Homo sapiens: one gene and its partners. The protein of the gene in region 2 interacts with the protein of the main gene of each other region in a biochemical or structural test. Each region holds a gene or a part of one and is shown on either strand. Other genes may lie near its edges.

Region 1 (3,898 bases), on a different chromosome or scaffold from region 2:
CTGAACACCATTAACTCAAAGGGTGGAGGGGTTTCTCTAGGGCCCAGAGCCACAGTCATGGAGCGTCTCGCGCACCCAGCAAGCCCTGAGATCACAGGAGGGCCTCCCAGGGCTCCTGCCTTCTGAGCTGCAGAGCAACTGTCTTCCCAGCTGTGCCAACGCTGGTACAACGCGTTGCACTTGATCATTTATCCAATAACCACTTGCTAACTCGGGGACTTCCTCAGAATCAGGCATCTGCCTTCTTTCTTTTTCTTTTTTAAGACAGGGTCTTACTCTGTTGCTTATAGGCTAGAGTGCAGTGGTTCGAAATAGCTCACTGCAGCCTTGAACTCCTGGGCTCAAGTGATCCTCCCGCCTCAGCCTCTTGAGGAGTTGGGACTACAGGCATATGCAACCATGCCCAGCTAATTTTGTATTTTTTTTGTTAGAGATGGGGCCTCACTATGTTGCCAGGCTGGTCTCAAACTCCTGGGCTCCATTGATCCTCCTGCCTCGGCCTCCCAAAGTGCTGGGATTACAGGCACGACCCACGGTACCCAGGCTACTTTCTTGATCCACAGCTGAGGTGAGGGTCACAGGGCCATGGGAGGGACTGGGACAACCCTGACCCTGATGGAGCAGAGAAGCAGCTCCAGGGCTGAGCCTGGGGTGGAGGGAAACACCCAGACAGTAGATGACAGAGGCTGGAGCCCTACCTGTGGTGACTGCTGGGCTGGGGCCTGGAGGGGAAGCCCGGGATTTGGACACGGTCCCCATCTTCCCTTTGAAGCTGCTGTTCAGTCGAGACTCAAGCTCTGCATAGACGGCTGACATCTGGAGGGAGACGGGGGAGAGTCCAGCCCATTCTGCTTCCCCTCGTAGCCCTAATGTGGTCCAGGCCTGGGTGGGCCGGGAGGCAGGGATATGCCCCAGCCTGAAGCAGCACAGGGACGCCTTGGCCTGGGTCTCCTGGGCCCAGTCCTATGGACCGTCCATTCCCTGCCCCCTACTGACCCCACGTGGAGGGCAGAGAAGGTCTCACCATCTTGGGGTTGGGGGTCTCAGGGAGGGACGTGCCGTCGCCTGCCTGGCGCTCGCCTGGGATCAGGGGAAGAGGCATCTCAGGGCACTCGCTGGGACCTACCGGGGAATAATGTCATTACCGTATCTGAGCTCTACGGCTCAGGCCCCGGCCCAGAACCAACATGCCCCGCAGACCCAGGAGGGCCAATCCTGAGCCCTGCTTAGCCCCATTCCCTGGGATTCCCCACCTCACCAAGCCCATTTTGCAGGTGGGAAAACTGAGCTCCATTCATACCCTCCCCCTGACACCAGCCTTACCGCAGCTGAGGCCGGCCTCCAGGCCCTGGGACCGGAGGCTGCGGCGGCACATGGAGGAAGCCCGCAGGGAGCTCCGCGGCTGGGGCTCAGGCGTGGGCTCGGACTCCAGGTCCAGCTCAGGCTCCGGCTCTGCTGTGGGACATGCAGGGAACATGGGGCCCTCTTGCCCTCTCAGCCAGACAAGGGACCTCCAAAACAGGGAGGGGAGGGCAGATGTCATCTGCACCAATATGCAGACCCCAAGCTACGGGGCCTGCCCTGCTTGCCTCCAGAACAGCTCTTGAGGGGAAGCCCCAGGGCAAGAAACCAGGTGCCAGGAGCAGCACCAGAATGCAGCACCAGAATGCAGCTAGCCTGAACTCAGGGGCCTAGCAGAGATCTCATGACAACAGCTTCCAGAGTCTCAACGCCCTGTGCTTGCCCCAGGCCAAGTCACTGCTGCCCAGAGAGGATTATGGGCAAAATAGAAGTGTTTTTTTTTTGAGACTGAGTTTTGCTCTTGTTGCCCAGGTGGGAGTGCAGTGGTGCAATCTCAGCTCACTGCAACCTCCACCTCCCAGGTTCAAGCGATTCTCCTGCCTCAGCCTCCCAAGTAGCTGGGATTACAGGTGTCCGTCACCATGCCTGGCTAATTTTTGTATTTTTAGTAGAGATATGGTTTCAACATGTGGGCTAGGCTGGTCTCAAGTTCCTGACCTCAGGTGATCCGCCTGCCTCGGCCTCCCAAAGTGCTGGGATTACAGGTGTGAGCCACTGCTCCCGGCCAAAATAGAAGTTTTTTGAGCCTACGCAGATATGTAAGGCATGTGTGGTCCAGCATGGATCCTGAGCTTCTCGCTAAAACCCTAGCAAATTGTGGGTCCCTGGGACTGCAGCTCATGGGCACACAAGGACCAGCAACTCTGCAGCGGCCCCTTCCCTTTCCTTCCTTTCCTTTCCTTCCTTCTCTTCCTTCTCTCACTTTCTCTCTTTCTCTCTTTTCTCTCTCTCTGTCTCTTTCTCTCTTTCTCTCTTTATTTATTCAGAGTCTGGCTTTCTCATCCAGGTTGGAGTGCAGTGGCACAATCTCAGCTCACTGCAACCTCCACCTCCCAGGTTCAAATGATTCTCGAGCCTCAGCTTCCCAAGTAGCTGGGACCACAGGCATGCACCACCATGCCTGGCTAAATTTTTGTATTTTTTTTTTTTAAGCAGAGATGGGGTTTCACCATATTGGACAGGCTGGTCTTCAACTCCTAACCTCAGGTGATCCACCTGCCTCAGCCTCTGAAAGTGCTGGGATTACAGATGTGAGCCACCACACCTGCCTTTTTTTCTTTTCTTCTTTTTTTTTTTTTTTTTTGTGACAGGTCTCACTCTGTCCCCCAGGCTGGAGTGCAATCAAGGCTCAGTGCAGCCTTGAATCCCAGGCTCAACAGATCCTCCTGCCTGAGCCTCCCCTGCAGCTGGGATTACAGGTGTGTGCCACCACACCCAGCTAATTTCAAATTTTTTTGCTATGTTGCCCAGGCTGGTCTCCAACTCCTGAGCTCAAGTGCTCCTCCCACCTCATCCTCCCAAGTAGCTGGGACTACAGGTGCATACCACCACGCCTGGCTAATTTTTTATTTTTTTTTTCTTTGAGATGGAGTCTCACCGTGTTGCCCAGGTTGGAGTGTAGTGGTGCGATCTCAGCTCACTGCAACCTCCGTCTCCCAGGTTCAAGCAATTCTCCTGCCTCAGCCTCCCGAGTAGTTGGAATTACAACTGCGTACCACCACACCTGGCTTATTTTTGTATTTTTAGTACAGATGAGGTTTCCCCATGTTGGCCAGGCTTGTCTCGAACTCCTGACCTCACGTGATTGGCCTGCCTCAGCTCCACAAAGTGCTGGGATTACAGACGTGAGTCACCGCGCACGGCCACCCCTGGCTGATTTTTAAATATTTTGAATATATGGGGGTCTTGTTGTGTTGCCCAAGCTGGACTTGGAACTCCTGACCTCAAGTGATCCACCCACCTCAGCCTACCAAAGTGCTGGGATTACAAGAGTGAACCACTGCACCTGCAGCGGCTTTCATAGCAGGTGCAGGATGCCTAGAACAGGGTAGAACACAGGCTTCGGCACACCTTCCATCCACATGACCTGCATGCTGAGTGCAGGGGTTTGTGGGCATTCGGAGGGCACGCTGAACAGACAGGTGGCAGCCACACATGGCACTGCAGGCCTGTGTGTGTGCAAGAAAGAGTACACTGGGAGCCCACCAGCCAGGTGGGATGTGGTCGTGTGCTCATGATCCTGGTGGTGGTGTTGGCATGTCTGGCAACCACGTGAGTTTCTTTCTTTTTTCTTTTTTTCTTTCCTTTTTTTTTTTCTGGAGGCAGTAGCTTGATCATAGCTCACTGCAGCCTTGATCTCCTGCACTCAAGCCATCTTCCCACCTCAGCCTCCTAAGTAGCCGGGACTACAGGTGTGCATCACACCTGGCTAAATTAAAACTTTTTTTTTTTTTGGTAGAGACAGGCTCTTGCTATGTTGCCCAGGCTAATCTTGAGCTCCTGAGCTCAAGTGATGCTTCCACCTCAGTCTCCTAAA
Region 2 (4,090 bases):
TGCTGAAAAAGAATGGTCACAAAACAGGAGTACTCAAATATGCCAAGAAACTGGAGACTAGGGCTCAGCTGTTAATGATTTTACAAGCCATATATTTATTAATCAAAAGAAGAGTTTCATGAATTTTGTAGCTGCTCTCACATTTACAGCTCATCTTGTCACCAGAACATACCTATGAGCTCCTTGTTGCGAACATCTAGTGCCATATTCCTCAAGGCTGTTGCCACGGAAGAAACAACTCTATCGTTATCCATTCTCAGAAGCTCCACAAGGATGGGGAGCCCCTTTTCTTTTCGGACGGCCGCCCGGATATATGCTGCAAACTAGTGAGAAAAATAAGGCAGGAAGTAACATAAAACAGAGTTCCAGTCTCATATGTTACTGTCACCTAAAAAAGATGTTTCCAAAAGATGAACTAATAGATTAAATGGTTTCTTTCCAATTGAAGATCAAATCTGTGGTGTCAGTGAAGAGAAAACCAAAGTTGGGGAGAAAGATAGGCTGGAATGACTGATTTAAAAAGAAATCCCAAAGCCTGAAAATCTCAAACCACCATCTGCCAGATATTTTTGTGCAGAAAAGAGAAGGCAGTGATTACTTTCTATCTCAGATACATAAACATGATTAAGGAAGGATCGTGTGTTTTCTTTGCAGTTGGTCCCCTGCCAAACCCAGAGGCTATAAATAGGATGGCAGAGACAGTAACCCATCAGCACACATGAAAGGAGAACCTGTCTCCATCAAGTCATTTTTTTTCTATATTCCCTGCAACAATATTTCGAGTTCAGAAACCTGTCAAAGAGATTAGTTGGAAAAATCCCTTGCCTCAGAAGAAAGGGAAATCTCCAGAAACATCCAGCATCATAATTCATACAGCCTGGTGAAAAAGTAAGTATATTTGTGTGCAAAATGCATTCTCACTCAAGATTAGTTAGCTGCTGATGCTGTTTTTTAAAAATCCATAGTCAAGAAATTTTTCTGTGACTATGAAGCAACTCTGTACTGTGAGTCAGTTTGTATATCTTATAAAATGGAAATGAGCGCTAAGTCATCAGTGAAACAACCAAAAAGAGTAACGTTAGAAAACGGTTCTTTAATCTTGTTTCCAGCTTTGAGCTTTAATTGACTTTTTCAACCAATGCAAATCATCTTTCAAATTTTAGGGTAATTGAAAGATGCTGCTCATAAAACATATACTTTCCTGCTGTGACCAAGACAGTAGGACAGAGATCTACCAGCCCTTTGTATTATTTCGAACATTAAAATATGTGATTGACCATCCAGTTTCTTGAATACCAACAGAATATTTTAATAATACAAATAAGAGGGAAAGATGCATTTCAAAGATCCTATTTATATTCTGCATATGAAATGCATACTCCTATTTTTCAAATCACATGAAATCTATGGGGGGAAAATGAAGTACATGACTGGTTACTAGGCAAAGCACTCAGGCAGTTTTATGAACTTCTCTCTGAAACCTGCAACAACAGAACCATCTCCTTCTGTCTCACTTGGAGACCTACCAGCCCAGCCCAGCCCAGCCCGTCTCCCTTCTGGAGAACTACAGTCATCACTGCTCCTGAAATAGCTTCTTACTTGATAACATCTGTGGCCACGATTATCTCATTTTCTTAGTGAAGGTCCAATATTTTAACTCACTATTGAAATCGCTTAGATATAATGTTTATATTTTAAATGAGCTTTGCCATCTAACTCTCTCACTAAATGATCCCAGACATGAACTTCTAAATAAGTCAAATCACATCGATTTCAATTACTGTCTTTTATTATCATCAAATGATCCTCTGGTCACAGAAGCTGAAGGTGAACGCTGTTCTACAACATAAATGTTTATAAATACTTATGTGCTGGGAGTATCTCACTAAATCCTCATAACCACTTTATAAGGCAGGTATTAATATTCACTTTATTTTAGGGAGGTGGAAACTGTGGGCAGAGCCCCTAGGCTGCCAGACGGTAAGCAGAGTGGCCTGGATTCAGAGCCAGCACTTACACACTCAGTCACTGGCACTTTAACTAGGAGCCACAACAAAATAACCACACCGGCTTAGCACTAGACCATAGTTATCGCTCTATATTCAACATAGTGGCCACGTGCACGAAACAAACCATACCTAGGCTTATCAATGCTTTTCACTATCTTGAAAACACCATCACCAAAAGATTCTCATTTTGGGGGGTTAAGGTGGGGGAAGAAGCCCACAGCAAGCATTGTAGTAACTCTACTAAAATACACCTGTCAAGAAATTACTAGAGGTTGAAAATGTCTCAGACAAGGACTGTCTGGGAAGTTGCTGGGGGACATTTAGAAAGTTCTGAGAACTTGCTTACAGTGGTAACAAAAGGAAACTGTCTTCAGTTTTCATACTCATACATTTGCAAAAAGATGCAGAAACCTTAGACACAGGCATGTCTGTAACGGTCTGAGAGGAACAGAGGTCCTCTATCCCTCCCCACAGTGCTGCCCAACCTGTGTTCTGTCCTGCCACTCAAGATTTCTCACCTTTGTATTGCTGCACTGGCTCCCAAATCCAATCCCTGCTTCTAACTCTCCCTTCCTCGAATCCACCTTTTGCACTGCCATGGAAGTGGGGGAGCAGTGATGATATTAGCCCGTCTCTGTCACTCATCTGCCCAGACTCTTTCGGTAGTCCCTCCTGTGTGTAGGTTAGGATTCAGCTCCTGAAGTTTGGCCTTCAGGCCTATCCATGATGCCTGGCTCCATGGTGGGCCCCAGTGGGCAGCCAGTAGTCCTGGCCCACACGTCTTCTCTGCACCACAAGACTGTCCTCCTCCTGTTGTCCCTGTTATCTGGATGGCTCCTTCCATACCACAGCCTCAGCCTCTACAGGCTTACTTTCACTCATCTTCAGAGATTCTGCCGGGCAGCATCCCCTTCAGGAAATCTCCTCCACGTCCTTACTCCGCTCTTTTCCTGACCTTCCCTTACACTGTGTGGCTGGGTTAGATGTCTTCTTTCAGGACCCCACAGCACATACATCCTGTGGCTTCTACACTGTGCTGGCACCATCTGTTTTTCTCACTAGCCTTCTGTTTCTCATAGTGAGGGACTTGTATTTATCTTTGTATCCCCAGAGCAACTGCTTGTCTCCCTTTTTTCCCTTTAACCCCTTCACACACAAGCTAAGTAGCTGTGACCCTTTCACCATCAGGGCTGATCTGACTGAGGCAGAACATATATATATAACATTTCAAGTTAGTTTGCAAAGATGGAAAGAAGTGTAGATAAGTGGAAGTCATCCTACCTTCCAGTTGCCAGCAGAGAGGTTCTGGAGAGACCCTGCAGAGCCTTCCAAGGTGGCTGGGTTGGAACTTTCTGCTAGAAGAGTCAGATATGGTTTTACCACCGATGGGTGCCACAGCATCTCAACCCCTTTGGGGGACTTCGACAGTCCTGGGATAGGACCAACTCCATCCCACTGAAAGACAAACAGCACACGTTAAATGGAGGCAGAATGAACATGATCTCCAATACTTGAAAACATTCACCTTTGCGGGACTCAGCTATAGCTATGCAGAAAATTTATTTTCTTGCCAAATATGTGATTCCTCACTCCCAGAAAAATTAAACTTGAGAGTCTCATATAAAATAAAATGCTAACTTGATCTTCTTGCGGAGTCCTCTTTTTCTTTTTCTTCTTCTTCCCCCAGCAACTTGGCTCAGAGTCTTTGCTGGGAGACTCTTTTCCTAGTAAGTCATCCAATTCGTTCAGTCCCAGTAACCGGGCCTGGGGCACCTCCAGCTCCAGCCGATAGGACAGGTTCCTCAGGGTGCACACGCAGTTCTCCACCGTCTGAAACCCAGCATGGCGTATAATTAAAAACAACTCGGCACATTAGAGCAAAACACTTCTGTACTGAACACTACAGACAGGAAATAAATGGGAAATATGAAAGAACTACTTTTTATTTATGAGAACTTGAAACAATCTGAAGAGAGAATTATGATTCTAGAGTGTTTGTGGAATACCCAGATGACAGGATGCAGAGCCCTTCTCAGTCCTGCTGAGGATTTGACTTCATGCCGACCGAAATGCTTGAGGCT
Region 3 (4,090 bases), on a different chromosome or scaffold from region 2:
ATTTTAATGGCTGACATGGATGCAATGCAGACAGCCCAGAAACAACCAGAAAATACTGTGCTATTGCAACATTATGCTGCTATCCTGCTGTTCTACATGAATAAGAAATGAGAATGGTAAAACACTACACAATTCACTTTCCCCTTAATTAAACCACGTAGGGATCATTTTTCTGTGTGTGTTCCACTTCAGTACAAGCAAAGCATGACATGATGATAATAACACCCTCTTTTTTTCCCTGAGTTTAAACAAAACAAAACAAAACAAAAAAACCTTACAAATCTACAGTGTTCAGTTACAGAGTAAAAACTAAAAAATCAAGAGAGAAACTAAACAAGCGTTGATGTAACACAAAATAATTAAATGGAAAATTCTACTCATTTTCAATGGTTATTTCTTATACATTATTAGAAAAATAAAGTATTTTTAAAAGCAAGTCATGTTTCTATTATAACATTTGTGTGTTTGTAAAAGAAGAGCTGCATCAGTGATTTTAGTTTAAAATTGGTATTTCCTAATGGCCTATTTTCCTGATAATTTCCTGATGTTATCGGTATAACATTTCCATTAGTAGGGTCTCTACAGTCTCTGGATTTGAGTCTTTAAAGGGCAGATGTGGTCACTACCACAAAAGGTGACAGGCGTTTTCTATAAGGTCTATGCCACATCCTTTCAGCAAGTTACCCACTGCTCAGCTGAATACACAGAAGTATCCTAGATCAGTGGGTGTCAGGTGAATTCTTTTCCTGTCTATTTGAAATCAAATCTTTAGACCGGTGCAAATAAATCTTCATGCACTGAATATGATACAGGTTCTTTCAGATCAGAAGAATGTGTCTGAAAATCATATAGTATTTCACACAATGAACCAGTAGATTTGCTTGTGCCAAATGGACATTAAGTGAGTTTAATGAAATCATTCTCCTTTCTTAAGCTACAGAAGCAGCAGAAACGTTCAATTTTCCATTAGGATTTTTACCTGAGAAGTAGTACTGGTTCTAGACTCTGGGCTGCCACTGATGTCTAAATTCTCTTACAGTGTACACACGAGAATACCTGAAACACACACGCGCACAATCAATTACTAGATAACTGGGGTCAAGTATATTTTTAAAGTTACTCAAGCCTTACCTTTGCTGTTGCCCTCGCACGGAATTCGGGACAGCCATTAACAGTTATCGTTTCATGCATATATTGATACACCTAAAATGTTCACATAAAAAGAAGAATGTGTAAGAACATGAAGAATAATAATTCTTTTATTGCAGAAAGAAAATTATATTTTCACTGTAGGAAAAAAATTCTCTATTGCAAAATAACATAGGTCTGATGTTTGGGAATGTACCTGATAGCACTCCTTAAACAGCAGATATTATTACTCATTGTGATTTTAGATACAATTACAGAAATCATTAAAATGTAGTAGAAAAAAATTGTTTCTTATAAACTTCCAGGGATGGGATTATAAAATCTTTGTATCTATGGTAAAATAAATTGCTTAAACTAAAGTACAGAAAAAAAAAAACTTAAAGGATGCCTTGAGGAAGATGTTTGGAAAAAAGTAACAAGGTTAAATGTGTTGGACTATATGTTCATTTTGGATTTAAATAGTATACGTAAAAATTTATTGCATAATGCATAGCAATAAAAGTCCATTTGGTACTAGGCTAGAGTATTTTTGGGGAGTGATCCATTAGCTATTTCAGTAAAAAAGGAAAGGGAAAAACTGCAATCGAAGGTTGAAAGGTTTTTTTCTTCCTTTATATTAATCTTATTTTACATGCTTAACTCAAAAATTAAATAAGTGAATCCAACATTTGATTAATTCACCCATTCAACAACTATTTGTTGAGTGTCTGGGACTAATCTCTTCCCTGCATTTTTGACTGGCTCATAATTTCTCAAATACATTTGGTTGAATCTCCACTAACGCTGACTCATCTTTCCCAGGTGACATGGTTAGAAGGAAATTGACAAAGTAGTCTGTACTAAAAAGGCAACAGTGCAATTCAGAATCTAACTTTTAGCTCTGAATCTCCACTTAACAATTATGAGGTGTTCAATTTCTATGGGAAATCTGAATGGAGACAGGAACAAGTTTCCAGAAGATCATTTATGGAATCTGAGATATGTTACTGCAAATTCTCCAGGTTACCTGAACAGCTGCTAAACGTACTTCCAGATTATTTCCTTGGAAATGCATTATTTTGTTTCATAGAGACAGCCTTTCCAAAAATAAATTATACTATTTGCTCTAATAGCCCATTTCAGAGGAGGATTTTCCCTGCCCTGCTTCTCTTGTAATAAACTCTCTCAAATCTGACCCTTCATTCCACCCTAGCTCATTATCTCTTGCTGCAAGCATTGCATTAGTGACTTAATTGGGTCTCCCTGCCATCAAACCATATACACTTTGGTGATCATCAAGTACCTACCTGACCATGTCCCTGCTGTGCTCTTGGCTGTCTGCTGCCCTTACTGCAAAGGTGATAAGGGCAAATACCTACAGGAGTCAAGCCACAGATAATAATGCAGAACTCAGCCTTCTCTCTAGTTTTATTTTCCTGTTTTCTTTTCTCCACCCCCACCATTCCTCAAACATATTGAACTCTCCAAGTTACCTAGGTCTCTGCACATGCCGTTTACTCTGCTAGGAATGCCCTTCCACCTGGCAGACTCTTATTCATCCAAATTTAATATGATGATAAAAGGTCAAATTCAAATATTGTCTCCTCTATTAAATGTTTTCTGCCTCCCTCAAGCAGAGTGAGTCTCTCCACAGTTCCTGGTCATCTGAATTTGTTTGAAGTTATTTTGGTTAACATTGCCAGGGAAAGTGACTTTGCCTGCATCCAAGGATGTTTATGAAGACAATCATTTAGCAAATAATTGGAATATTGTCATCAATTGAATAAAACAAAAGGTGATTTTGTAAGTGCTGGAGATAAATACCTGTACCTAATAAATATCACAAATTAAGAATAATTAGCCTTAAGACCCCAAATTGATTTTGAATTAGAAAGTGGTATATTCAAGGAGCAATACTGTGTAGTAGATAATTTCACAGACTCTGAAGATGGCTTGGAAGCAAACCGTAGCTGTACCATTTAATTGTATGATGTTTGTCAGTCACTTGATTTCTCTGATCCTCAATTTCCTCATTTTAAAAATGTGCCTTAAAATAGTAAGTAACTTCTAGGTCTGTTATGAGGATTAAATAAGATAAGAACAATTTGCCATGTTTAGTATGTTTCCAAAAGTTAGCTATCATTGTTATGCTGTTGCTGGCATTTGATGTTTCTCATCTTATTTGACCATGGATCTTTTGGGGAAAATCTCCTAAGATGAGCAGTTCGTGAACACTGTTTACATAGAATTGATCAAGGGCTGTAGTTCTCAACTGGGGACAATGTTGCCCTTCAGGAGACATTTGGCAATGTCTGGAGGCATTTTTGGTTGTCATAAATGGGATGCTACTGCATCTAGCATGTGGTGGCCAAGGATGCTGCTAAATTCCTACAATGCACAGTGAAGCCTCACAGAACAAAGAATTATCTGCCAAAATGTCAATAGGGCTGAGATTGAGAAATCCTGATCTAAGGAATTAAGCTATACCTTTTCTTCGTACGTGCAATGATTGGTAAGCTGTAAAAACAGACTTGGATAGCACTGAGTAAAGGCTCTTGTAAAACATTCAATAAATATTTGTTGGAGTAAATTACCATAATTCTGGTATATATTTAATGAGAAATCACCATGGGCCAAATGTAATGCTAACCATTTTATATCCATGAGCTCGGTTAATTCTCCTAACTTCTTATTTGGGCACTCTACACACAAAGACACTGAGTCACAGAGGTGGGAACATACCGATGACCACACAGCTAATTTGTTGCAGATTTGATACAGCAACTCATCTCTATCTCCCTTCAAAATCTTTCCTCTTTCAACCGTATCAGACTTTCTTATATTAAAACAGCATCAGATCATTACTATTTTGGCAGTATCAGTGTGAACAAAAACTTGCAGGTGTTATGAGAATTTCTTTATATTTTGAATAAAGGAATCTAGGTTTTATACAGTGGCTACC
Region 4 (4,090 bases), on a different chromosome or scaffold from region 2:
GGGCATGGTGGCTCACGCCTGTAATCCCAGCACTTTGGGAGGCCGAGGTGGGTGGATCACCTGAGGTCAGGAGTTCGAGACCAGCCTGGCCAACATGGTGAAAAAACCCCATCTCTTCTAAAAATACAAAAAATTAGCTGGGCATGGTGGTGCAGCCTGTAATCCCAGCTACTCAGGAGGCTGAGACAGGAGAATCGCTTGAACCCGGGAGGTGGAGGTTGCAGTGAGCCGAGACTGCGCCACTGTACACCAACCTGGTCAACAAGAGCGAAACTCCGTCTCAAAAAAAAAAAAAAAAAGGATGACTGTGGGGGTATAGCTTAGATTGGAGGTGAAGGAAGGCCTCTTTGAGAAGAAGGGTTGTTTACACAGACACTTGGAAGATGAGAAGTTAATCAGGCAGAGGTAAAGGCAGGTGTGAAAGTCCTGAGGCCCTGTAGCTGGAGCCCAGTGGGGAAGAGGCATGATGTGGGTGGGGAGGGAGGCACTGGCTTTAGCGGCCTTGTTAAAGATTTTGGATTTCATCCTAAGGGGACTGCTCTTTGAAACTGCTAGATTTAGCTATGATAAATGAGTTCCATAAGGCATTATTCTCCTTGATTCAGGCTGCTCTCCTTGGAGTTAGAGTTTGTCAGTCAAGAACGCTTGCCAATCCCAAATAAAATGATGCTTAGAGCCGTTTAAAAACTGAGCCTGCGTTGTCCTTTAGTAACAGTGAAGTGTGTATGAAGATGCACCAGATCAGTCTTCTCAGGACAACAGGTCAGAAAACGGAGGAATTTTTTTTTATTGCATGCACTGGATGACTCAGAAGCTAACTCTCATTGTTGACTGAAATGAGAGCGGCCTGTGCTTGCCTGGATAAAAAGTCCTGTCCCAGTGGCTGGATGAGGGGACGATCTGAACCTTGAATCAGGAGGCTGCTTTCGTTTCCTAAAACCCAGATCTCTGGTAAACAAATGATGGGAGAGCCAGAAAGGAAGGTTAGGAGGTCAGGATCTCGGTACTGGTTTCCACATCCTGCCACATTCCAGGAGAGTTTTGCCTGATAAAGTCATAGCATGTGCGGGCCAGAAGGGACCTCAAGGATCAACTTGTCCTCATTTTTTGGGGTCAGGGTGCTGATGGGGAATGCACCATAATAGCGGCACCACACTAGCTGCGCTGAGGGCTAATCGGAAACTGTAGCTGCTGAAAACTGCATCAGATACTGAGGTTTAGGACCCAACTTGTGTGTCCTGGTTTGGTGCCTTGAAGAACCTGTTACCTGTGGTTCAGCCATAAGGAGACACCCAGGTGTTCATAAGATCTTCCTCAACTGGATCCCGAGAGTCAAGGGCCTTCTCCAAAGGGTGGCCAGAGCCCTGTGGGCACTGGGAGCCTGGGGGTGTTACTGCCACCTTGATCCTGCGGACTTGGAATTCCCATCCAGGAAGGTCTTGTAATGTGGAAAAAAAAAGTTGTGAACTTACCCTGGGATGATGACAGTAATATTTTTAGTATACCTTAGTTTAGAAAATCTAACCAGATACCTTGGTTAGAGATAGTACTCTGAGGTGAGTACTATTTCAAAATGAGTTTGGATCTTGTTCATTCTAATAGCATCTGTATTCACTTGAAAAATGGTTGTACATCAGTGTAGGAGATGTGATATGTATTGAGTCCGCATGTATTGCTCTGTAGGCAGGTGAATTTAAGGACCTATTGCAGTAATTGATTGGCTTCCCCCAAGCATCAATGATCTGTCAATTTGGAACCACTGGTTTTAGAAGCATCAGTCTGCAGAAAACCAGCCGTCTATAGGGAATGACCCTAGTCATTTTGGGAGATTAAACCAGTATAAACCTATACTACCATACTTTAGGATATCCTTGATTGCTTTTAACAATTTTTTTTTAAATTTTTATTTTATTATTATTATTATTTTTTGAGACGAAATCTCACTCTGTTGCCCAGGCTGGAGTACAGAGGCATGATCTTGGCTCACTGCAACCTCCACCTTCTGGGTTCAAGTGATCCTCCTGCCTCAGCCTCCTGAATAGCTGAGATCACACCCGGCTAATTTTTTTGTATTTTTGTTAGAGACAGGGTTTCACCATGCTGGCCAGGCTGGTCTCAAACTCGTGGCCTCAGGTGATCCGCCTGCCTTGGCCTCCCAAAGTGCTGGGATTACAGGCATGAGCCACCATGCCTGGTCAACAATTTTTTAAATTAAAAAGTAATTCAATATTATTGTAAAAAACATTGCAAAACTGTATAACTGTGAACAATTTAGTGTGCAGTGTTTCCACTTTCTTTTGTATATATAACATTATTAAGATTTTTAAAGAAATAGGGTATTATAGTATATAATGTTCTCTAAATGTGTGTGTGTGTGTTTTTTTAAATGTAATTGTTAACTAATTTTAAGGAAGCAAACGTGGTTCAGTGGGAAGGACATCAGATCTGTTCGGGGTTTGTTTCCTGGCTCAGTAATACACTAGTTGGAGGACCAGTAATATAATAATATACTAGTTGGGTGATCCTGGGTAAGTCATAGGTCTTTCTAAGCCTCAGATCCTGGTCTTGGAAATGGGGACTGCTATTTGTCCTCCTTTCTCATAAGGTTGCTATAGGGATACAATGAGATCATATTAGAAAAGCCCTCTTTGTCAATGATAATATAAATGATTGTTATTATTTAAGCTATGATTTCAGCCCTCTTTTCTTTTTCAGGGCTTTGCTCCATATCAGTGAATACTTAACTTGGTGGTAACTTAGTGGTTTGGAGACAAATAGTAACTAGCCTGCTTTCCCCTTTTTTTCTAGGTCACTCCTGGAAGCAAGGCGGCTCTAGCTAATTTATGTATTGGAGATGTAATCACAGCCATTGATGGGGAAAATACTAGCAATATGACACACTTGGAAGCTCAGAACAGAATCAAAGGCTGCACAGACAACTTGACTCTCACTGTAGCCAGGTGAAGCCTATGGAAACGTTTTGTTCATTTCTGATTGACTAGAAGCTGTTTGTGGGCAGGGACTGCCTTCCCTATCTCAGAATCCCCCAGACCTCCTAGCTCAGTGCCATGTATATACTATAGGCATGCCAAAAGGTCTGTGGAATTTGAACTTCAGATTGCTTATTTCCCCTCTATTTTTTTTTTTTTTTTTTTTGAGACGGAGTCTCACTCTGTTGCCCAGGCTGGAGTGCAGTGGTGCAATCTCAGCTCACTGCAACCTCTGCCTCCCGGGTTCAAGTGACTCTCCTGCCTTAGCCTCCTGAGTAGCTGGGATTACAGATGTGCACCACCACACCCAGCAAATTTTTGTATTTTTAGTAGAGATGGGGTTTCACCATGTTGGCCAGGCTGGCCTCGAACTCCTGACCTCAGGTGATCCACCTGCCTTGGCCTCCCAAAGTGCTAGGATTACAGGTGTGAGCCACCGTGCCCAGCCCCCCTCTGATTTTCACGGTGCTTATGATGTGGGCTTCTTTCAGTAAGATACTTGCATTTTCACTTGATCCAACTCAACCAAAATTTTGAGTAAGTAAAATGTCCTGGCCAGGTGCGGTGGCTCTCTTTGTAATCCCAGCACTTTGGGAGGCCGAGGCAGACAAATCACTTGAGGTCTGGAGTTTGAGACCAGCCTGGCCAACATGGTGAAACCCTATCTCCACTAAAAATTAAAAAATTAGCCAGGTGTGGTAGCGTGCACCTGTAGTTCCAGCTACTCGGGAGGCCGAGGCAGGAGAATCACTTGAACCCAGGAGGCAGAGTTTGCAGTGAGCTGAGATGGCGTCACTGCACTCCAGCCTGGGCGACAGAGCGAAACTCCATCTCAAAAAAAAAAATGTCCTTAGGATGCTGCTGCTACTGCATTGTGCTGAGCAGTGGGTACCATGCCAGGAGATTGCAATAACAGAGAAAAACTTGAACACATTAGCAGCAGAGTACTGAGTGTAACTTTAGGTACATGACAAGCAAGGAGCGCTGGGGATAAAAGAATGAATGAGGGTAGCACCTTGGGAGCTGTAATTAGGGTAGAATTTCCATTCTTCTTTCATTTAGCCTTGGAAGGGGTCCCGCAAAGGCAGGATTTCGGAAGT
Region 5 (4,090 bases), on a different chromosome or scaffold from region 2:
GAGACGACAAATGAATAATTTCGAGTTATGCAGGAAATGTTACGATTTTTTGTTATGATTTTTTAGGTCATTCCTAGCCCATTCAGTGCCCACTCTTTTGTGCAGTCCTGTATGCGCAGGGCTTGGCAAGCAGACTTACTGGGCAGACTGATATTGTACATGGTAAGGAGGAAAACCCCTTCCCCAGCATGCTAGCAGCCCTGGGCTTTAGATCTGGATCTCCCAACTCCTTCAGGAGCCTTTGTGCAGGACACAACCTACCTATATAATCAACATGGAGTTGCCCTTATATGTAATCATTTTGGCTTCTGTACTATTTGTACTATATACTAAATATCTAAGATGTCAAGAAATAACTCAATATTGAGAAAAAGAGAGGTACATATAGCCAATCTGAATGTTTTGTTGCTTTAGTTAACTAGACACAACTAAAAATCCCCACAGAAGATGAAACAGAGCCGTATCTTCTTTAAAGCTCAACTTTAGACTAATCCAAACTAATTATAAAGTTGAGATTTTGTTTCACTTTGCTTTAAAGGGTAATTATCTAGTACCATTTTTTTGTGATGGATCACAAAAATGGGGAGGAGGAAAGAAATCAAGATTTACTGAACACCCGTTATCTTTGAAGAAATCAAGATTTACTGAATACCCGTTATCTTCGAAGCTCTGAAAAAGGCCTCATTTTTCAGATAATGGAATTAAGGCTCAGAAATTCAGTAGGCTATCAAACTCACACAACTCAGCAATTAAAACCATGTTTCTCTGGTCTTTTCTACACTGATAAACTATATCCACATGTTTAAGTATTTGTATTCAACAAAGAATCCACCATTTCCTTTTGTGAGCCAGTAACTATCCATAAAAAACTATCTGCTGATGATTAATTTAAGTCACCGACTGCTGATATTACCCTGTTCAAACCCCCTATCATGAATAGTGAGGTCAATACCTAAATTATTTGAGGAAAACAATGGCACAGAAATGCAGATAATGTAAAGAAGAAAGCAAAAATCAACTCGGGGAAGTACCCCAGCTCTATCATATGCTATTTGTGTGGTTTGCGGCAAATCACCTCATGCTTCCTCATCAATAAGATGAGGATAGTAATTCATATCTTAAAATTCTGATTAGATTTTGTATAATGAATATTATATAGTATCATATATATAACATATACAACACAATTATATATTGCATGATACATATTGTATGCAAGTACATTTCTATTGCATTATCTAAACTGCATGATAAAATAGCTTATGTAAGCTATTTATCATGCAGCATTTATGTAAAGGCAATAGAAACAAATGTCTTATTTCTTAGTACTTGAGAAATTTGGTGTAGCTTGAAAGATACATGTTAGTCTTCAAAGTAAGTTTATTATGAATTTAATAACTCCATATTTTAAACTTCTAATTTATGAAGAATTCTTACTTTTGGAAAACAAAAAAATTTACCTTTGCAGTAGCGTTCGCTCTCACTTCAGGACTGCTACTGATGTCCACAGTCTCATAGACATGTTCATATACCTGTAAAAGCCAAAGTTATATCTCAGAATATACCATGCTTGAGTTCTCTGTGAAGTTAAAATTTCAGGCAAAGTTATGCATCTTTATAAAATGGTTTTATCAGAAATTCCAAAAATGAGAGGGACTGGTTTTAATGTTTTCTAAAGTTTTTCTTAAGAAATGTTGAACCCAAATTTAGAGTATTATCTGACCTAATTAACTCAAATTTTTGTAAATTTTAATGATGTTTACTCACCTCTCTCACAGCATTGCAGAATTCACTTTGAAGGACTCTTTGCAAAGCCTGAAGTTTCTGTGGTGGTACTTCTCCACTCCTTTGTAGTTTTTCCAATAATTCAATTGCTCTACAAATATCTAGAGTTAAACACACACACAGATAATTTTCTCCAAGGGTTTTCTCAATGCCTATGTAACAGTGGGGCAGTTAGGATTCATTCCTCAAGGGCAAATAATATACAGACAATCGAGGGGAAAAAAAGCATTGAATTTGCACATTTGGTGGGAAGGAGACTGTGTGTGTGTACACACATGGAGGGTGAGAATGTAAAATGTAAGAACACTAAATTTTACAGTAGATAGGAAAAACTACTGAGATTACAGAAGCATAAAATAAGACCTTGGAGAAACACAGGCAAATTGAACACAAAATACCAAATGTCATCGGAAAGGACTGTGACTCAAATGTGACCGATACATGAACATTGTACTGCTTCAGAAAAGCTAGCAATATTGTCAGAAACTAGTCAATAAAAATTTACCTAATTATTATTAGTAACCAAAGCACTGAACAGTACAAGGCACTATAAGCTAGTAAAATCACTGGTCATTCCTCGAAAGAAACATGATACATAGGTAGATAACCACTCGAGAGCAGATGCAGTTAGTGGCAGGGACACATTTAAAACAACCATAAAAATGCAAAAAACAAGCAGTACAAATGAAATAAACTGATTTTTTTTCAACTTAATTAACACTGTTAATTCAAACAAGCTCCAACACTTATGTTTACAAAAAAGAAAAATAAAAACAATTAGCTTTATCAATCTGGTCTCAATACCACCTGTGTGACCTTGGGCAAGTTACATGATGTCCTTATGTCTCAGTTTCTTTCACTGTACAATGGAAATAACAGTACCTTCCATATAAGGGTTATGAGGAAGAGTTATGAGTTCAGTTAACAACTGAACCACAAAATACATAAAAAAGGGCTTAGCAAGCAAAAGTGTTATGTTACATTGGTACCAATTAATCATAAGAAATATTGGCTGGGAATAGTGGCTTATGCCTGTAATCCCAGCACTTTGGGAGGCCGAGGCGGGTGGATCACCTGAGGTCAAGAGTTCAAGACCAGCCTGGCCAACATGGTGAAACCCCAACTCTACTAAAAAAAATACAAAAATTAGCCAGGCATGGTGGCGGGTGCCTGTAATCCCAGCTACTTGGGAGGCCGAGGCAGGAGAAGCGCTTGATCCCAGGAGGTGGAGGTTGCAGTGAGCTGAGATTGTGCCACTGCACTCCAGCCTGGGTGACAAGAGTGAAACTCCATCTACAAAAAACCAAACAAAACAAAAACAAACAAACAAACAAAAAAAACCCTAAGAGGTTGTATACATTTATACAAATGTATGAAGCACATTAGGGAATTCTCACTGAGAAGTGTGAGGATAAGTGTTTTATGAATTGAGACATTTTAGAAGATTCAGGAAGTCAGCTATAACACTGTTAACTATCTCTACTTTTATTTTTCCAAAAACTGTTTTGGTATACTGTTTTTGTACCCCTGGTACTACAATGCCCAGTATTCTATTATTGCTTTGCTTCCTTTTGACTTAAGTAGAAGTTCCTGATTTCGTTACACTCAAGGACTGGAAATTTTTCTTTATAGAGTTAGTATGGCCTTCTTCGTGTTTGCAGATAGAAAACTATGAATAAATGTAGTAAAGAAAGATATTTATTTATTTATTTGAGATGGAGTCTCACTCTGTTGCCCAGGCTGGAGTGCAGTGGCGCAATCTCCACTCACTGCAACCTCTGCCTCCCAGGTTCAAGCAAGTCTCCTGCCTCAGCCTCCTGAGTAGCTGGGATTACAGGAGTCCACCACCATGCTCGGCTAATTTTTGTATTTTTAGTAGAGACAGGGTTTCACCCTGTTGGTCAGGCTGGCCTCAAACTCCTGACTTCATGATCCACCCACCTCAGCTTCCCAAGGTGCTGGGATTACAGGCTTGGGCCATCACACCTGGCAGAAAGATTATTTATTTATTTATTTGAGATGGAGTCTCCCTCTGTTGCTGAGGCTGGGGTGCAGTGGTACGATCTTGGCTCACTGCAACCTCTGCCTCCAGGGTTCAAGTGATTCTCGTGCCTCAGTCTCCCGAGTAGCTGGGACTACAGGTACCTGCCACCAGGCCCAGCTAATTTTTGTATTTTTAGTAGAGACAGGGTTTCACCATGTTGGCCAGGCTAGTCTCAAACTCCTGACCTCAAGTGATCTGCTTGCCTCGGCCTCCCAAAGTGCTGGGATTACAGGCGTGAGCCACTGCGCCTGGCCAGAAAGC
Region 6 (4,090 bases), on a different chromosome or scaffold from region 2:
TCAAATGCTGCAATCTTGGTAGAAATGTAAATATTCTAAAATGCTACGTAAGACAAAAATCAGTAGAAATAACGGAGAAATTAAAATCCACTCAAGTTCTGTAGAATATTACTAATACTGTACTTGGAATGTATGTCACAGATAAAGTTCATAGGTATATTTAACTCAGAGATTTCTTAAAGATTTATCTTAGTTTGACTTACCACATACCTTTAGGACCTTTAATGAGCTTTATTTCCATTATTTTTTCTGACACTGGTTTCCTTCTTTTTACATACAAGCGTACAATAGACCCTGCTTCTTTCAACGCTTCAACTGCTTTGCTATGTGTTACATCACGAACATCTACTTCATTTACTCGTAATATACAGTCATTGACCCTGAGAAAACAATTAAATATTAAAAATAAAAATTAAATATAATTTAAATATAAATTTTCCACTTTACCAATTTTTTGTTACTTCTTTTTTAAGGTAAAGAGAATTATAAATAATTCTGGAGTAATTCCAGAAAACATAAATGAAGAAAGTATATCAAAAACTAATATAAACAAATACAAACATTTCCCAAGGGCCAGCAAAAGGAACAAAAGAAATAGTGAAAATAATAGATTATATAAAAATGTTAAATAATAATTACAGCTACCATTTGCATACTTCCTGCATGCTTATTCTGTGTAGGCATTAAGACACACTTTATAAAAATAGCAAACATTTATTTAGCACTAACCACATGCCAGGCACTTTCTTGGTATTTTAACCCTCATGACACCTGTAAGCTTAATATATATTTTAATCCCTATTTCACAGATGGAGAAACTGAGGCACAAAGAATGTAAATAACTTTCCTAAGGCCACCCAGATAATAAGTGACAGAGCTGTGATTCAAAGATAAGAAAACTGAGGCTCACATCACGAGTTTAAGGTCACAGAGATAGTGTGAAAACTGAGATAAAGTAAAAATAATTTTCTGAGTGCCTATTCCAACCTATATATTAGACATAAAACAATTAAGTTATTTTTTGAAATTTATATAAAGATTAGGTCACTTAATTCAAAGGTTTCGTAGGTAAAGAACTTATAATTTGCCATGGTGTTATGTTTTTTAAAAGTCTGATTTGTTCCTAGTCTTAGCCTTTTCCCTAGTTCTGGTCTCTTTGATTGCATGGTATTCCACCAGGAAAAAAAGATGGTCATCTCAAATTGGGTAGAGAGGGTAAACAAAACATAATTAAAATATTAAAACTGGTCCTGACAAGCTTCTATATCTAACAGAATCAGGAAGTAAATGTCTACATTTACATGAATGGTCAAATGATTAATTTTTATATCTATTTGATTTCATTAATATACCACCTGTCATACCCAGTGAGAATTATAAAGCTTAGAAATTCAAAAACTGCGTAAGGCATCAACGTCCTTAAAATAAGATGCTGTTTTTAACAGACTACATAAACTCTTTAGTCCTAAAACTTCAGGGTATTTGAACAACAAACAAGGAAATAGGAAAAATGACATAATTTATGACCCTCAAAAAATCAAAGTTTGCAAAATATATCTTCCAAAATGGAACACTAAATTTAAACAGAGACAAATGTTATTTTCATCTAGTCAATAAGAAAATATATTATTTAAAGTTTGCATATAGTCTTTGTGGTGTGGGATTCAACATGGATGTGTGATCCTCTATCCTCCGTATCTTAAATAAGTTTATATACATGTTTCCCAGCCAGAGAGGAAATGGAAAATATTCTGTGAGTGTACTTAAATAAGTTTATACACATGTTTCCCAGCCAGAGAGGAAATGGAAAATATTCTGTGAGTGTATCTGAAAACACAAAGGGAAACTCATGATTTCTATAAATATGCTCACAAAGATTTAAACCATCAACCAAATTTGTTATTCAAAATGTTATAATATCTAAGATAAAACTGGAGTCTAAATGAAAACAGGAACACAATGCTTAGAGCATAATTATCTCATTCATTGACTTGAATGTTGTTAAAGCATCTACCCTATGCTAGTTATCATGATCGTGTTTGTTATTTGTATTTATCCCTTATCCAGTCTGCTTCAAGAAAAATACACAAAGTGGATTCAGCATCACAATAAAAAGCGCAAAACATACCGCAATCTTCCATCTTGGGCGGCTGCTCCCCCTGTGATAATTTTGGTAATGAAAATACTTGAGTCATCTCCAATGTGTGGGTTGTCCGTACCTCCTGCAATGCTGAAACCAAGCCCTGAATTTCCCTGAGGATAGAAGAAAAAAAATTGAGACTGAATATGATTTATCTTTATGGACAGGTTCCTGTCATTAAAGGACGCAGAAACTGTACTAACATAAGGAACACAACAAATAAAGGTATATGGGTGAGTAATATAAAGATTCTAAATTAAATGGACTTGTTCTGGAGGAAAGTCCTTTCAGAGGCATTACTGCTGAACAGGTGAGGTTCAAGAAAATACACCAAGGACTTTTGAAGTATACTCCACAGTTCTTTCTTTAAAAGTATGTGCAACTTGTCGTTGGATTAGTCACCCATCTGCAGAGGTGTCACTGTAAGTCTGTTTCTTTTAGACTGCACCTCAGCCATGTTTGGTAGGGCACATCTCTCCTAAGAGACAAATGCTGAAGTGATCTTCCCGCTGTTATTTCTGAGTAGGCAAAACCCATATACTGTTTTAGCCTTTAAAAAAGGGGGTGGCGATGGTGCTTTTCTTCTGCTAACTTGACATCAGCTTATTTTTAAATGACCAAATTGTGGCTGCTAAGTGATAGCTGCCATCAGTCCCTGACATGTTTAACCAATATACCCGATTAGCAAAAGGCATTGTTTCACACTGACTGAAAGACCAACCTGAGAACTTAACATTGGTGAATTTTCTTGACAGCAAAGTAAATTTTGCCAAAGCAGCTCTACTTTTTGCTTGTTTTATGAACTGGAGAAACAAGATTTCTGAATATGTTCTTCACAGAAAGGGTTCGACTGCTACAAAAAGCCTTTAAAAATAATTGATTTAACCAATGGTATTAAAAAATGTTTATTTCTTGAAGAATGTTCTAACTGAATTTCAGGCAACTCAAGTAAGCAAATATATGTGGACCTATCATTTAACTGTTAGTATTAAACAGTGTAAACACCCACTCTACCACCATTTGTCTTAAAATTCTATTTTAATAAAAAAATGTTTTTCAATCTAACTTCATGAATTACCTGAATCTTAAGAACAGTACCAGTGGATTATGGGAGGTTACCAAATTACTTAGGTACTCAAGTTCTTCAACCAGTGAAAAATACAATGTATAGTCCTAACTAAACAAAAGGAATTTAAAAGGCCCTGGGAAAAGATAAAAAATCAATAATATAAAAAGTTAGGAGACATCACAAACTACTATATTAAAGTATGTACAGTACATTAATACTGTGCTTACTTGAATATTACTCCAGTAGCCACCCAACTTGAGCAAGTGATCCGAATTTAAGTAGATGGCAATAAAGATATACATGTAAGAGACTCTCTCAGATTTATTTTTCTCAGATTCTATTCCAATATAAATAAATCTAATTATCTAGGATTTCAGTCTTGAGTATACACACATTTAGTTACTTAAGAAATCTGCTTGTGTGAAACACTAGATTTCCATAAAATGCTAGCCAGATAAGGTGGCATTACTATTATAACATACAATAAAAACTGAATGCAGATATTCTTTTTTCTTTTTTTTAGACAGAGTCTCACTCTGTCACCCAGGCTAGAGTGCGATCTCGGCTCACTGCAACCTCTGACTCCTGGGTTCAAGTGATTCTCCTGATTCGAGTAGCTGGGATTACAGGTCTGCGTTACCACACCTGGCTAATTTTTGTATTTTTAGTAGAGACGGAGTTTTGCCATGTTGGCCAGGCTGGTCTTGAACTTCTGGCCTCAAGTGATTCACCCGCCTCGGCCTCCCAAAGTGCTGGGATTACAGGCGTGAGTGCAGATATTCTTGAGGGAAAAACATATCTTAAGAAAATTTGCACATCTGAATTGCACCTTCAAGTCATTTTCTGATTGGGCAAGTATACCATAATTAGTTTTTAATACA
Region 7 (4,225 bases), on a different chromosome or scaffold from region 2:
TTAGGAGGCTTGCATTTATGGGCCATGCTGTATGCAAAATGTTTGTCTTTAAATGCTGGCCCAATAGAAACAGAGACAGATTGAGAGGATGAAAGATTTAGTTCTCCCACTCATGTGCACTTCAAGGCTTACACTTATCGGTTGGAAAGTTGGTCTTTGCAGAATGTTTAAGGTTATCTTTCTCTTTCTCTTTTTGCCTAGCACATATCATTAAACTCATGTAAGTAAAATGCACGTAAGTTCAACAAGCATCACTTTGTGAAAGTGATGGTATAAATCTTGATGGTCATTTATTTAAGAAAGCAAAATAAAGCAGGACTCCTGGAAATGAACCTAAAGTTATGATATACCTTCTGGGGAAGGGCACTGCCTGGAATAGCAAAAGATAATTAGGAGGCCAGAGATCTCACTCAACTGCAGGGGCCAGGCCAGGTGTGATGTCAGAGTAGTTAGGGAGGGATGCAGTTGCCAGGTGAGGGAGATGTCATGCCTGCTCTTGGGTTGGAGTGTGGCTGAGGGGAGTGAGGGAGGCAGCAGAGCCTGGGCTGGATCCTGGGTGCTGCCTCTAGCAGGATTCTCTTTACACCTTACAGGCTCCCAGGGCTATCCTTGGGTATCCCCAGATACCCAGGGGTATCTGTCCACACTACTGTGACAAATCCTAAGTATTGTACTTCAGCTCAGATTTATCATCTGAGCTTCAAATCTGGCAGTCCGTTGAACTTGTTTACTTTGATGTCTTAGAGATACTGTAAATCCAACCTGCCAAAACTAAATGCAGTTGTCAGGAGCAGAGACCTGGGGCTCCCAGCTGTGTCATCAGGGCTAATGGAGACCTCAATATGGGGCCTGATGTTGGAGAACTGGAGACATGAAGGGACACAAACCCCAAACTTTGTTGTGAGTTTAACCGTAAGTAAATAGGACAATTATAATACCTTCATATTTCAAGCCTGAAATGCCCAATCTGCTTCTATGAATTTCCTCCTGAAAGGCAGAGATGAATTTGGTGGCCCAAGTCTTTAAAGGACAGCTGTCCAGAAAAGTTGGGCACAGTGTCTTTTCTCAGTAAACATTCTGTAGCAAGCAGAGCCTTCAGAATGGTTTCACTGACTTCAGAGCTGAACTGGGATTCCTCTTAAAAATACCCACTGAAGAGTTTCAGGACTTGGTGGGGACCCTGGTTCTGGGGTCCTGCTGGTTTGTATGGGAGACATGGCTGGCCAGGAAGCCCACGTGAAATCTCCAGATTCTCCTCTAGTTATCATCTGTCTATAAAAGCCTCCTTCTGTTGGACAGCTTGGTGGGCAGAGAGTGAGGGCAGGAAGAAGCTGAGATCATTACACAGAATCAGGGGGTGAGCAGAGAGCCCCGTGTACTCCGACAGCATCAGGGTCTTGCTGAAAGTCCTGCTACATTAGCCATGAGCTGGCCGGCCTTGAACCCTGGGTGAAGAACTCCACCTCTTTACCCATCATGTCCACATGCAAAACATGAGGCTTGCTGTGAAAGAATGTCTCTATCTTAATGAAATTCTCCAAATTTCCAAGTCTTGCCCTTTCCGTGAAATAGGCATACAGGCTTCTGGTGCCTCTTTATTCCCTATTCACCCTTTCCCTATGTCCACAGTTGAGCCCCAGGTCAAATCTCCAAGGGCAGCCTGATGGCACGTGCAAAAGGATAGAAGGAAAGGCAGTCGTTCTCCCAACTTGTGGTGGGATGATGGCCAAGATTTCACCCTTGGGACCACCAAGTCCCCCTGGACAAGTGGGGAGCAAATCGCTTTTTCTTTGGTTGAACCTCAGATGAAGCCTTGCCTCTTGCCTCTCAGGCTGATGGCTTCCCTAGGTCTCTGTCCAGGCAGAGCCAGTAGCTGGAGCTCCGAATCAAAACCAGAGGGCAAGGAGCTTATTAGAAGAGGTGGAGGGAGTCTACGGGTGGGAGGTGAGGTGTGGACACTGAGGCAGCTGCAGTGGCCAATGGACACACACAGCTGCCATCTTCCACTCCTCAACAAGGCTTAGTGAGCTCAGAACGGAGGGAAGGGGGTGCTGCTTGAGGTGGTGGGGACAGTGGTGAGCCTAGGCCTGGGCAATAGGCTAGATTTCCCATTCTTTGATAAAACTTCTTGAATGTTTCTTTCCCATGTTTATAAGAAAACACAGTTTCTACATGATTTAGCCAAGCTTAAAGTCAATTTTCCCTGCAAATGCTCAAGAATTAAAAATGTCTTTTGACAGTGAGTGTTCCTCTTCAGTCTTTGTAGAATAATTTCTTTTTTATACACTTGAGTGTGCATATATTTACATGAAATTCACTATTTCACATACCTTGTAGCTCTCATGAGTGGAAATAATGTCTCTTTCACAGTGAAGCTCAGTTTGGGACAGATGCTTCCGGCTCTACTGGGGAGGAGGACGTGCTCTCTGGGTATCTAAGGGTTTGTAGCTATTGGGGTGCACCAGAGCCAATTTTAAGAGAAAGAGGCAATGCAGGAAAGGAGAAGGAGAGCAGCAGCACATAATAAAGCCAACCCATTGATTTGGGTGGGGGTAAGGAGGCTGAGAAATGAGGATCCATGTATTTGCTAAATCTTTGTGCTTTTCTCTTAGATATTCCTTCTCATCTCCTCTAACCAGACTTTCGACAGATATTTTCTGAGCACCTTCTCTGCATGTCTGCAGTGCTGTGTAAAATGCCCTACCTTTGCATGGACTATTCTTTCTAATCAAGAGGCGTGTGTGGCGAACTTGGGGCAGCCCCTGGAAGTCTTGTTCTTTGACCATTACGTCTGCGGCTGCATCACCAGATAATGAGCTTCACCACTCGTCTGCCTCCTGTGTCCTTCCGCGGGGAGTAAATGTCACTTCAGCTTGCCGCATCTCTAAATAGGCAAATTTTCAGTGCTCAGAAAAGGACCTGATCTTTGCACAAAGTGCTTTGATGGTTGCCTGCTTGAGTCACTCCCAATCCCTTCCTGAAGCCCTTTCTTTATAATTCTTCTGTTGAAATAGCCATCATATTCACAGTACTAATCACAGCATCTCACATTTACTAAAAACTTACCCCATACCAGGAACCCAGAGTTGGGGGGGCTGTGTCAGAATTATGTAATTTACGTGTCCCAATAATCCTAGACGCTTCTTGACCATCTAGTTTTGTCAAATGAGAAAACTGAGGTTCCAAAGAAGTCAATAAACTTGTCCAAAGTCTGACCGACTCTGCTTGCCATGTGACGAGTCTGTCTTAGAACTGGGTCATTGCCCTGCTTGCAATGCTGTGCCCTCTGGCAAGCCCCCCCATCCCCCCGGTCTCCTGAGCTCGGTAAGGTGCTCCAGCTGCTTCTATCATAGCACTTCCTACATGGACTGTAACATTTCTTTACTGCTCCAACTTCTCATTAAATTGGGGGCTCCTCAAAGCCAGGGTTGGTGCCTTATAAGTTTCTTGCTTCCTGGTGCCCAGAGCAGCCTCTGGCATGAGCTGTTTGAACACTGGCTGAGTCTCACGGGCCTGTGTCGTGCAGAGTATTCTAAAAGGCAAGGGGAAGGTGGGGTGAGGAATTTTTTTTATCAAGGCTGGAAGAAACATGGGCTTCTGTATTCTAGTCCTGAATTGGATGGGGAGGATGGGGAAGGTGACATGTACCATCCATGTGGAGCCCCTTCTCCCACCTCGGAGGATGAAGAGTATCTTACCATCAACTCTACATGCCAAGGCCAGCTACCCTGTGAAGAATGTTTGGAGGCAGATTCTGGGACCATTCCCTTGCCACAGTTCTGCTCTTGGGGCACTGTCCCAGAGTCTTTGCCTCCAGAAGAGTCCCCAGAGAGTGGGAGTGAATGGGAAGACCTGGAGGAGCCTGTGGCCCTGGAATACGGTGCCCTCAGGTGGGTATCACTCTGGCTGGGTGGACTGGGGCTGAGCTCTGACCAGAGCAGGGCTCAGTGCTATCAAGCCACTTCAACTGGGGGTGGGGGATGGTCTGTGGGCATTGCCCAGTTTCCCCTGCATCTTCTTTGGGGGTCATGCGTCATTGTAATGGCCATTTTCACAGAACACTTACCATGGCCCTTGCACCATGACAACGACCTACAACATGGGGACTGTCATCACCCCCATTTCACACATGACACATTTGGGGCTTTCCCAAGGTTATCCAATAAGTAAGTGACAGAACTAGAATTCAAACCTGATCGGTTCCCCACTCCACGGCCCACCTGTC

What was found.
Region 1: the proteins of PKP4 (region 2) and GRID2IP interact in a test that uses a peptide from one of them, tested with the Homo sapiens proteins (one large-scale study listed by IntAct).
Region 3: the proteins of PKP4 (region 2) and LIN7A interact in a test that uses a peptide from one of them, tested with the Homo sapiens proteins (one large-scale study listed by IntAct).
Region 4: the proteins of PKP4 (region 2) and PDLIM1 interact in a test that uses a peptide from one of them, tested with the Homo sapiens proteins (one large-scale study listed by IntAct).
Region 5: the proteins of PKP4 (region 2) and LIN7C interact in a test that uses a peptide from one of them, tested with the Homo sapiens proteins (one large-scale study listed by IntAct).
Region 6: the proteins of PKP4 (region 2) and DLG1 interact in a test that uses a peptide from one of them, tested with the Homo sapiens proteins (2 studies listed by IntAct, with this or other methods).
Region 7: the proteins of PKP4 (region 2) and FRMPD2 interact in a test that uses a peptide from one of them, tested with the Homo sapiens proteins (one large-scale study listed by IntAct).

Annotation. Positions count from the first base shown.
Region 1 is NC_000007.14:6,509,585-6,513,482, forward strand, and holds part of GRID2IP (delphilin), read right to left. Parts: intron 1,456-3,898; coding exon 1,324-1,455; intron 1,123-1,323; coding exon 1,025-1,122; intron 817-1,024; coding exon 699-816; intron 569-698; exon of another isoform or gene 432-568; intron 1-431.
Region 2 is NC_000002.12:158,662,646-158,666,735, reverse strand, and holds part of PKP4 (plakophilin-4), read right to left. Parts: intron 3,840-4,090; coding exon 3,648-3,839; intron 3,465-3,647; coding exon 3,291-3,464; intron 889-3,290; exon of another isoform or gene 655-888; intron 324-654; coding exon 173-323; coding exon of another isoform or gene 159-172; exon of another isoform or gene 72-158; intron 1-71. UniProt on the Homo sapiens protein: Plays a role as a regulator of Rho activity during cytokinesis. May play a role in junctional plaques.
Region 3 is NC_000012.12:80,847,120-80,851,209, forward strand, and holds part of LIN7A (protein lin-7 homolog A), read right to left. Parts: intron 1,204-4,090; coding exon 1,132-1,203; intron 1,057-1,131; exon of another isoform or gene 980-1,056; intron 1-979. UniProt on the Homo sapiens protein: Plays a role in establishing and maintaining the asymmetric distribution of channels and receptors at the plasma membrane of polarized cells.
Region 4 is NC_000010.11:95,270,503-95,274,592, reverse strand, and holds part of PDLIM1 (PDZ and LIM domain protein 1), read left to right. Parts: intron 1-2,808; coding exon 2,809-2,960; intron 2,961-4,090. UniProt on the Homo sapiens protein: Cytoskeletal protein that may act as an adapter that brings other proteins (like kinases) to the cytoskeleton. Involved in assembly, disassembly and directioning of stress fibers in fibroblasts.
Region 5 is NC_000011.10:27,500,035-27,504,124, forward strand, and holds part of LIN7C (protein lin-7 homolog C), read right to left. Parts: intron 1,887-4,090; coding exon 1,768-1,886; intron 1,533-1,767; coding exon 1,461-1,532; intron 1-1,460. UniProt on the Homo sapiens protein: Plays a role in establishing and maintaining the asymmetric distribution of channels and receptors at the plasma membrane of polarized cells.
Region 6 is NC_000003.12:197,138,012-197,142,101, forward strand, and holds part of DLG1 (disks large homolog 1), read right to left. Parts: intron 2,254-4,090; coding exon 2,129-2,253; intron 381-2,128; coding exon 211-380; intron 1-210. UniProt on the Homo sapiens protein: Essential multidomain scaffolding protein required for normal development. Recruits channels, receptors and signaling molecules to discrete plasma membrane domains in polarized cells.
Region 7 is NC_000010.11:48,155,758-48,159,982, reverse strand, and holds the end of FRMPD2 (FERM and PDZ domain-containing protein 2), read left to right. Parts: intron 1-2,612; coding exon 2,613-2,661; 3' UTR 2,662-3,421; downstream 3,422-4,225.